Linked DNA regions of Homo sapiens: region 1 is linked to region 2. The links come from fine-mapping of genetic effects on gene expression. A gene starts in region 2. The other region holds a variant in brackets. All regions are shown on one strand. Distances are between the middles of the regions.

Region 1 (5,383 bases), 72 kb before region 2:
GGTGGCTTGAGAGAAACAGGAAGGGAGGGGAGATTCTGGGACATTAGTATATTCATGGCAGGTGTGTGTAAATTGGAGCTGTCAGTTTGACCAGCAGGAAATAGAAAGTATGAATCTTAGGGGAAGGGAGTGAATCACATTCACAAAGACAGCTTGAAAAATTGGCCAGGAGGCAAATGACAAGTTCTCCACTCTATATGAAATATCAAGATTAAAGGAAAATCAATTATCCTTTACCTTTGAGCGTTTTTGGGGGTTATGGTGAAATTAGGACTAGAGGGAGTAAGCAATGGTAGCCTTTAATTTTTCCTAATATTTTACTATAACAAATTTCAAACATACGGCAAATTCGAAGGAGTTTTATTGTGTAAATTTAGATTCTATCATTAACATTTTACCTGATTTATCACTTATTGTTTATCGTTGTTGTATATTCCTCTATCCTTCTATCGATACACCTTAGTTTTGGAAGTAGTTTTGATTTTAGTATTCTGATTATTCTTTCTTTCTTTCCTGTTTTAGTGTTTATTACCCTCCTTTTGTCTTCATCCACCCAAAACCATCATCTTTAATGATTACAACAAAGAACATGATAATGATAACAAAAATTTGTTAAAGCTACATTTGCTGAACATATACTATATGACAAGCACAGTACTAGCTACTTTTCTTATATTATTATCTCAATATTTTTCAGAATAGGAGGAGATATAATTATCCCTCTTTTGATAATAAGGAAACAGAATCTCAGAGATAAGTGGCTAAACCAGGATTCAAACCCAGTCTTGTCTGGTAATTTGCTTTGGCAAACAAGTTTCAGGGGATTAATGGCCCTAGGAATTTCATTTCAAAGTAGGTTAGTGAACAACTCACTAAAACCACCTTAAACCTATTATGGAGATCATTGATAAAATCATTATCTGCCTTTAGTTTATGTAAAGGAGCCTTTAGTTCAGAGTGGAATGAAAAAGCTAATCTTTGAACCATGATTATCTGTGAACAATCTGGGTATCTGCATTTCTTTGTATGAGAGTGAAGTAGGCAAAATTTTCCGCAGAAACTTATTGAACTCTTCTATGGGCCAAACATTACACATTCATTTAATTCTTTTTTTCTTTTTTTGAGACGGAGTTTCGCTTTTGTTGCCCAGGCTGGAGTGCAATGGTGCGATCTCAGCTCACCGCAACCTCCGCCTCCTGGGTTTGAGCGATTCTCCTGCCTCAGCCTCCCGAGTAGCTGGGATTACAGGCATGCGCCACCACGGCTGGCTAATTTTTGTATTTTTAGTAGAGACGGGGTTTCTCCATGTTGGTCAGGCTGGTCTCGAACTCCCGACCTCAGGTGATCTGTCCGCCTTGGCCTCCCGAAGTGCTGGGATTACAGGCATGAGCCACCATGCTTGGCCTCATTTAATTCTTAAGGCCAGTTCTCTCAGGTAGATATTATAATCTTCATTTTAAAGATCAAACAGTTAATGTTCACTGGAGCAAACAGACAGACCAATAGAACAGAGCAGAAAGTCCACATAATCCCAATACAGGGGACTTAATGATAAAAGGGATGACAGTCATCCCTTGGTATTCCTGGGGGATTGGTTCCAGGAGTCCCCTCAGATACCAAAACCCCAGGAGGCCATAAAATGGCATAGTATTTGCATATAATGTAGGCACATCCTCCGGTAAATCATCTCTAGATTACTTACAATACCTAATACAATGTAAATGCTATGTAAATAGTTGTTGTACTGTATCATTTAGGGAACAATGACAAGAAAAAAAGTCTCTACATGTTCAGTACAGACATAACCATTGCAGGCCTAGCTACATTTTCTATTCAAGGTTGGATCCAAGGATGCAGAACCTATGGTTACTGAGGCCAGCTGTACCAGTATTCAATAAGTGATATTGGGACAACCATCTAGAAAAAAATGTAAAAAAAAAAAAAAAAAAAATCTGAAGCCATATCTCACACCATTTAGGAGGACAAATCCCAAATGGATCAAAGACAAATATGAAAAGTGAAACCACAAAAGTTCTACTAGAAAGGATGAGAAAATTTCTTTATGACTTTAGAGTGGGGATGGCTTTCCTATGACACAAAATCTAGAAGCCATAATAAAAGAGATTGATATATTTAAGTATGGAAATTTTTTTTGTTTGTTTGAGACAGAGTCTTGCTGTGTCTCTCAGGCTAGAGTGCAGTGGTGGGGTCATGTCTCACTGCAACCTCCACCTCTGGGGCTCAAGCCATCCTCCCACCTTAGCCTCCTGAGTAGCTGGCACTACAGGCGCTTGCCACCAAGCCTGGATTTTTTTTTTTTTTTTTTTTTTTGTGGAGATGGGGTTTCACCATGCTGGTCTCCAACTTCTGGACTCAAGCAATCCTCCTGCCTCTGCCTCCCAAAGTGCTAGGATTATAGGTGTGAGCCACTGCTCCTGGCCTAAACAGATAAATTTACTTTACATGTGGAAACTTCTACATGGCAAAAAAGAACTACAAAAAAATAAAAGTACAGATGGCAATATGGAGGAAATATTTGCAATTCATGCCACAGATAAAGTGTTATGCTTCCTAACAGATAAATAGCACCTATTAATGTCTGAGGAAAAGACAACCTTACCAATACAGAAATGAATAAGGGTAGGAATAGACTGTTCAAAGAAGAGGACAGGCAAATGGCTCTTAAACATGCAGAAAGATGTCCAACCTCATTAAACAAGAGAAATGTAAATTAAAACAACACTGAGGTACCATTTCCTTTGCATTTTATAAACTAAAAGTTTAGTTAAATACTGCACTGTGTATGGTTGGTGGAAATATCAATTAGTCAAATCTTCATGGAGGACAAGTTGTCAATTTATTTCAAAATTACAAATGTACATGCACTAAGTTTCAGCAGTTCCATTTCTAGCAATTTCTCCTTTATAGGAGAAAATTTTGCCTACTTCACTCTTGTGCAATATACTCGTATAGTCACACCTGTGGGAAGCGACATAGGTAGAGGCTATTCACTGCAGCATGTTTTTTTTTTTTTTTTTGAGACGGAGTCTCGCTCTGTTGCCCAGGCTGGACTGCAGTGGCGCGATCTCGGCTCACTGCAAGCTCCGCCTCCCGGGTTCACTTCTCAGCCTCTCCTGTAGCTGGGCCTACAGG[C/T]GCCCGCCATCACGCCCGGCTAATTTTTTGTATTTTTTTAGTAGAGACGGGGTTTCACCGTGTTAGCCAGGATGGTCTCAATCTCCTGACCTCGTGATCCGCCCGCCTCGGCCTCCCAAAGTGCTGGGATTACAGGCGTGAGCCACCGCGCCTGGCCACTGCAGCTTTTTTTTGTTTTGTTTTTGTTTTTTGTAAAATATGGGACACTAAATAAATAGACTATGAAATAAATTATAGTAGAGGCATGTGATATATACAAAAGAATGAAGAAAGTTTTTATGTAGTGATTTGGAAAAAGCCCTAGGATATGTTAAACAAACAAACAAACAAACAAACAAAAAAAAGAGCAAGGAACAGAACCATGTATAGAGTATGCTGCTGTCTGTGAACCATGAGTACAGGGAGTTTACCCTCCTCCCCGCAAAGGAGAATCTATGGTTGCCCCTGTGGGTAAGCTGATGGTGTAGGACACACAGTTCTGGATTCAGCTTTTGCTGGTGAAATTGCTGGCTATCCCCTGATTGGGTAAACAAACCTAATTCCTCAGAGATCTACACAGTGCTCACCCCTCCCCAGCTGTCAGCCTTGTATCCAACTGTACTGGTACCATAATTTTTGATTCTCTGAGGGCTAGGACTTCTCTTTTCTTCCTGGACTCAGGGCAAGGATGGTCGGGCAAACTTGCTTTTGTCTTATTCATACCCAAAGCATCTGTGTTGTCAGTGTAAAAGGCTACTGAAGACATAAACCGTTTATAGTTCCAACACTGCAACTAGAAAATTCATCTTTAATCCAATGAGGATAACCTGGTATGTCATTTGCCAAAGGTTGTTATTAATACAAAGTGGATGCCAGTGGTTAGTGTATGAAATCACACATAAGCCCAGGCTTGCTGACTGGTTTCAACTACCATCTTTTTATTTAAGTGGACAGATATAACTGGGTGTCTTTGTTGTGTACAATGTCAGTGACTTTCTTCCTTGCTAGCAGAATCTGAGCTTTTGAGTACTGGAAATAGTCTGACTTTGTATTGGAAATATGTTATCTATTCCATGATTGATCATTTGGTTTTGTCCAGAGGCCTGGCATAAGATAGGAAACATGCTGTTGGCAGACAAATCTCTATGTGTCTCTGCACTTTTTGTATGTCTCGCGAGAAAAAAAATCATCACTAGTCATGAATTTGTGCAAGTATTTGACTACAATATTTATTGCTCATTTGTTAATAGTCATAAAATATAGGAAATATCCATGATGGCCAACCATAGGGGATAAGTTAAATTATGGTTCCTCATATAATGGAATGCCCTTCAGTGATTTTAAAATGATGATGTAAAAGAATATTTAATGTGGGAAAATGTTCTTGACATACTAAAGGGGAGGGGGAAAAGCTTCCTCAAAATAAATCACAGTAGTGTGATCTCATTTAAAAAGTGTTACACATACATACGCACACACACACACAGACATCGAATGGCGATACATCATGGATTATTAGCACTAGATATATTTTTGTAATGGGACATGGGTAAAGTTCTTATTTTCTTCTTAAAATGATGAATTTTTCTACAACAAATATGATTACGTTTGCAATGAAGCATTTTGCAAAAGCTATTATAAAAAGAGGAAGAGGTAAAATGCCTTCCTGAGTGCCTCTCCTAATCTAGTTAGCGAGACAACACAGGATATTCTGGAGCCACCTCCAGATTCCAAATCTCTGCCTTTGTCCTCTCAGGCCCATACAGATCCCCAGCCAGTTGCTGGGGAGACTATCGGGATCTGTGCGTTTCCTTGCCATTCATTTCTGGTCGCTGTCTGTGCTATACACCTCAGCAGAGGCACAGGTAAAAACCTTTAACCTGATTAAAATTCCCCTCAAGCATATTCCTGGTATTACTGGTAAGAGGAAGGAGAACGCATTTCAGAAATTAATTTCATCCTCATGTCATCAGAAAGGCCAGAAAAGAACAACCCCCTCCCCACCCATTTTAAATGCAATTTTGATTGGATTCTTTCTGAATACTTCAGTGGCTTTTGAGAAACAAAACAAAACAGCGTTCCTGAGCGCCCAGCTGCAGCCTCCTGCGAGCACATCATGTTCCGCACGTCTCGCTGGTTCGAGGACGCCTCGTCTGTTGCTATGGAAACAGAGTAGTCAAATCAGACTGCGACGGAGGACTCTACTGAGTCCCCGAGAACAAATTGTTTCCTTCTGTTTGGTTCCATTTGG
Region 2 (5,383 bases):
TTCTACTTAGTAAAATTAGAACTTTGGTCTACCAAGGGCACTCTTAATATTTGAAGAAGAAAAATGAATTTCTAGCACAATTCACAGACTAGGACAAGGTGAATAAGTAAGCATCCTAACTTATTTGGAAGTCCTGGTGGCATGTTAATGCATATTTAATAATGCGAGTGAAGTAGCACATATTTTACAATCAATTAATTTTCCTTAAAGAAGATAATGTAGCAGGAGAGCTGAATGTCAAACAAGGTAAGACTCATACTTATTAACTTGGCAGGAGTTATGAGGCCTCTGATTCTCTTGAAAGACAAATTGTCTTCACTATTTTGATTTTGAAATGTAGAAATTCAAATTTCAATCAATCCAATGAGTAAGGATGACAGGAAATTTTACAGAACTAGGAGGAAGCTTCCTTTCATTTTTCCTTCTTTTTATTGGGGCAGGTGTAGGGGGATGTTTCCCCCACAAAACAGCAGTTTTGCTAGAAGACAGTGAGGGATCACCACCGTTGTGTGCCCTCCTCCCTGGGAGCAGCCAGTTGCTGTGACATGGACCTTCTCTATTGCAGATATATTTTCTTGCTGCCATACTTCCTCTGACTCTATCCAATTCCATCCTTTCCATTCTCTGGAATCAGAATGGGCCCATGCTTTATGCTTTTCCCCCTCACTTAGCCCTTAGAGAAGAGATCAGGATGTGCCACCCTCCAAATGCCCACATTTTGGCACAAGAATATTTTGAACTGAAGGCTATGAAAAAGAAAGCAGACACAGAAAGAGCTCTCTGCCCTCCCCCATCCCCCATCTTCCTAAAAGCAGCACATTTATTGATATTTCCCTTGCACAGGTGTCCCGCTTGCTCATACAAGGAAGAGAGCAACCCTTATCACCAAAGACAGAGATGCCGCTGAGATAAATCTGCATGAACAAACCTCGATAAATTAACCCTTATCTTCCATTATTTCCACCTCCCACCCCCACTTTATTGTCCCTAAAAGCATAACCCTCTTTTCCTTTGTCTAGTCATTTCACTATTTGCCGTGCTTTGTTTTAATGGTATATAAGCTCCTGAGTCTATTAGGTTTTTCCGTTTCTTTTATGTGAGGCTCTCATACATGTGAGATTTTATTTTATTATTATTATTTTTTTGAGACTGAGTCTCCCTCTGTCAACCAGGCTGGAGTACAGAGGCACGATCTTGGCTCACTGCAGCCTCTGCCTCCCAGATTCAAGTGATTCTCCTGCCTCGGCCTCCCGAGTAGCTGGGACTACAGGCATGTACCACCATGCCCGGCTGATTTTTGTATTTTTAGTAGAGATGGGGTTTCACTATGTTGGCCAGGCTGGTCTCAAATTCCTGACCTCAAATGATCAGCCCGCCTCAGCCTCCCAAAGTGCTAGGATTACAGGCATGAGGCACCACTGCCAGCCACATGTGAGATTTTAAATATGAATAAAATTTGCGTGCCTTTTCTCCTGCTAATCTGTTTTATGTTGGTTTAATTTGCAGGCCTCAGGCACTCAACCTAAGAGGGTAGATGAAGTTGTTTCCTCTCCTACACTTGTGACCTATAAGTGGTAACCCGATGCCTACTCATGGAGATGGGCATCACTGTGACCATGGGACAGATGATCAAACTTGGGCTCTGGGAAGTTACAGGAATTTGTGGGTGCTGGAGTCTGAACTCCTGTCAAAGCCCTTTTACCTCCCTCTTTCCTTTCTTGGCTAGCACCTCAAAGTTTTGTTTTGCCCATCTAGCAGACCGTAAAGTCCAAGGGATTGTTGACACTTGCCGGTGCAGGCTTCCCATCTTCTCCAGAGCGCCCATGCTGAGTGTCAGCTAAGGAAAGGAAGCACACCTAAAAACAGCCCTGGAAATCCCCATCCCAGACCCAGTCAAAATAGCCTGGTGTTTCTGACAGGTCTCCTTCTATGTCTCTGCGGGCACCCAGCCTCGGGCTGAGCAGCATTAATCACTCAGTGAGTTTTGGTTGATGAAGTGAGACTGATTTGCGTAATCCAGCTGCTCTGGGGCAGGTACCGGGGCCATCTGACAGGGGCTCCAGGACTTGGCTTGAGTAAAAGGAACCCTGAGACACTACCCCAGCCAGGATCTAAATTCCCCCATTTTTCCCTTCTCACCAGTTCTTTGGAAAAGTGCCTGAAGATAAATAATGGACCCCTGCTGTGAGCCAGAAGGGAAAAAAGGCAAGAGAAGAAGGCTGTCTTGTTTCTAAGTGACCATAGGGATCACAACACATCGATTAAAAGAGACTTTTCAGGTTTGTCAACCCAGAAGAGCCCAAGAAGAAAAAATAATGGGCTTAAAGTGTGCCGTTAAAAATCGTATTGTCCTGATAATCTCCCTGCTTAGGTAAGAAACTTGCCAAGGGGCTAAGGAAAGGGCAGCTTTTCCACTGAAGGCCTTTAACATAAGAGGAAAGCTCTGCTCACCTGGAAGCCCACGTTGCTGTAGCCCTCAGCTCTGGGGGCTGCTGTACTCCTCAGCTCCATGCTCTTTTTGCTGCTGGCTGGCTCTGGTCTGGAGGTCCTTTGTACCTGGGAAAAAGCACCAGTCTCTGCTGATGTCAGAAAGCCACCTGCTGTTACAGGGACCTGGGCACAGCTTGCTTCAGTTTGGAAACTTCTGCAATAATCTCCTGAATGACTAGGGCTGACACCTGGTTGGGGTGGGGCAGAGAGGCGGGCGGGTTGGCGGGGTGGAGGCATCTAGTGCTGGCCCGCCCACCTTATTAATCTTTTCCTTTATCCCCATTTTTGGCATCCTATTTGCACTCCTGGGGAGAAAACTCTTGTGGTGCACAAAACAGAAAAGGACACTTTCTTTTTCTTTCTTTCTTTCTTTTTTTTTTTGAGATGGAGTCTCAAAAAAAAAAAGGCTGGAGTGCAGTGACGCAATCTCGGTTCACTGCAACCTCTGCCTCCCAGGTTCAAGCAATTCTCCTGCCTCAGCCTCTCAAGTAGCTGGGATTACAGGTGCATGCCACCACACCTGGCTGACTTTATTTTTAGTAGAGACGGGGTTTCACCATGTTGGCCAGGCTGTTCTTGAACTCCTGACCTCAAGTGATCCACCTGCCTTGGCCTCCTAAATTGCTGGGATTACAGGCATGAGCCACCGTGCCCAGCCAGAAAAGGACACGTTCTCTATAGTGCTTAGTGAAATCCTCTGTTTTCCTGTGGGTGGTGTTAAAGACTAGGAGTGGTGGTGGGGTGGAGGGTGAGTGAACACAGGATATAAGGTCATGCCGCCCTCAGTGATCACCTACTGTATACCAGGGATGGATAGATGGATAGATACATAGACAGATAGGTAGGTAGGTAAGGGTCTTGGCTCTTCTTCCGAACAACTCAAAATTCTATACTGAAGTACAGAAAAGTTAACAATTTGTTTAGTGTCATTTAGCTAATAAAGGGATAATGAGAATTCAAATTCAAGTTTGGTTAATTCCAAAACCTTTTATTACATCCCTGCTTCAGACTGGGCTGCTTTCAAAAATCCAGCTTACAGAAATGCCGATATGTGACAAGTAAATGAAAGGTGACCAGCTATTCAATTATCAAAAGTGAATAGAAGTGCTTTGTTTTCATAAAGCAATTCACTTTGCTTTATGAAAATATTAGCTGTAGAATTCTTTTAAAATAGGGATTTTCCCCCCTAGTACAATTTAAAATACTGCAAAACTGTGGACAAAAGAATGGAAAAGGCCTGGTGCGGTGGCTCACGCCTGTAATCCCAGCACTTTGGGAGCCCAAGGCGGGTGGATCACTTTAGGCCAGGAGTTCAAGACCAGCCTGGCCAACATGGCGAAACTCCATCTCTACTAAAAATACAAAAATTAGCCAGGAGTGATAACGTGCGCCTGTAGTCCCAGCTACTCGGGAGGCTGAGGCGGGAGAATCGCTTGAACCCAGGAGACACAGATTGCAGTGAGCCGAAAACGCACCGCTGCCTCCCATCTGGATGACAGAGTGAGACCCTGTCTCAAAAAAAAAAAAAAAAAGAAAAGAAAAAGAAAAAGAAAAAGTAAGAAAATACCAAGTATTATGAGTGGTTATTTCTCGGTTTTTAATTTTATGGGCAGTTGGTGTTTTTTTTTTCTCCTTCAAATGCTGCTGAGTTTTCTATAAAGAGAATGATTTACTTTTATTATTGTTAACCTAAAGGAAAAAACGGAGACAAACTTAATGTAAGTATAGAGTTTATTTGGTCTAAGTTTGAGATTGCAACTTGGGAGCACATATTCAAGTTGCTCTGAATATACACTTAGTAGCAGTTACAAGTAGATTCTTGTGTGTGTGTGTGTGTGTTCTGTTGCCCAGGCTGGAGTGCATGATCATGGCTTGCTGCAACCTTGACCTCCTGGGCTGAAGCTATCCTCCTGTCTCAGCCTCCCGAGTAGCTGGGACTACAGACAGGTGCCATCACCCATGGCTAAATTTTTTTTTTTTTTTTGGTAGAACTGGGGGCCTCACTATGTTGCCCAGACTTGTCTTGAACTCCTGGGCTCAAGCAATCTTCCCACCTGCCTTGGTTTCCAAAAGTGCTGGGATTACAGGCACTGTGCCTGGCCACAAGTGAATTTTAAAGGAAAAGAAGGAGTTTCTGAGTTGTTTACCAATTATTTACATTAAAATAACATAAGCTATTGATTGGCTATACATTGCTATTTGTATCACACATTCTAGGAACAGAAAGGCAGCCAGTCAGGAACAAAATTCCTTTAAAACAATTGCCCCTGGCCAGGCACAGTGGCTCCCGCCTATAATCCCAGCACTTTGGGAGGCCGAGGCAGATGGATCATGAAGTCAGGAATTCGAGACCAGCCTGGCCAACATGGTGAAACCCTGTCTCTTCTAAATACTACAAAAATTAGCCAGGCATGGTGGCACATGCCTGTAGTCCCAGCTACTTGGGAGGCTGTGGCAGGAGAATTGCTTGAACCCAGGAGGTGGAGGTTGTGGTGAGTCGAGTGGAGGTTGTGGTGAGTCGAGATCACGCCACCGCACTCCAGACTGGGTGACAGAGCAAGACTCCATCTCAAAAAAAAAACAAAAGACAAAAAACAAAAGCAAAAAAAAATTGCCCCCGGGCACAGGGTTGAGTGGTGACTGAAGTCCAACCCTCCGTTTCTCTGGGCCTGATAGATTTTGCATTGCTCACATAGCTGGGACTGTGTGAGTTATTTTTGTTTTCTCTTTATCAGTGACTGAGGCCCAGTCTCTCTGGGCCTGATAGATTTTGCATATCTCACATAGCTCAGACTGTGGGAGTTATTTTTCTTTTCTTGTTATCATGATACAGACTGTACAGTGTATACATAATGATTAAAGGCTTGCAGGAACCTGTGGTCTGGGTTCAAAT

Evidence for each region. PIP is the estimated chance that this variant, and not a neighbour inherited with it, causes the effect.
Region 1: its variant is the best candidate, but not a certain one, in a credible set for the expression of SLC28A3 in fibroblasts (GTEx, PIP 0.53).

The regions. Positions count from the first base shown.
Region 1 is chr9:84,266,402-84,271,784 of GRCh38, forward strand. No RefSeq gene overlaps it. Among named protein-coding and RNA genes, the nearest start is that of SLC28A3-AS1, 9.1 kb to the right of the region's middle. The variant C/T (reference allele first, on the strand shown) is at 3,154.
Region 2 is chr9:84,338,123-84,343,505 of GRCh38, forward strand. It overlaps SLC28A3 (solute carrier family 28 member 3), which reads right to left and starts at 2,636. Exons shown (of 18, transcript NM_001199633.2): 1 at 2,452-2,636. The coding sequence starts at 2,511.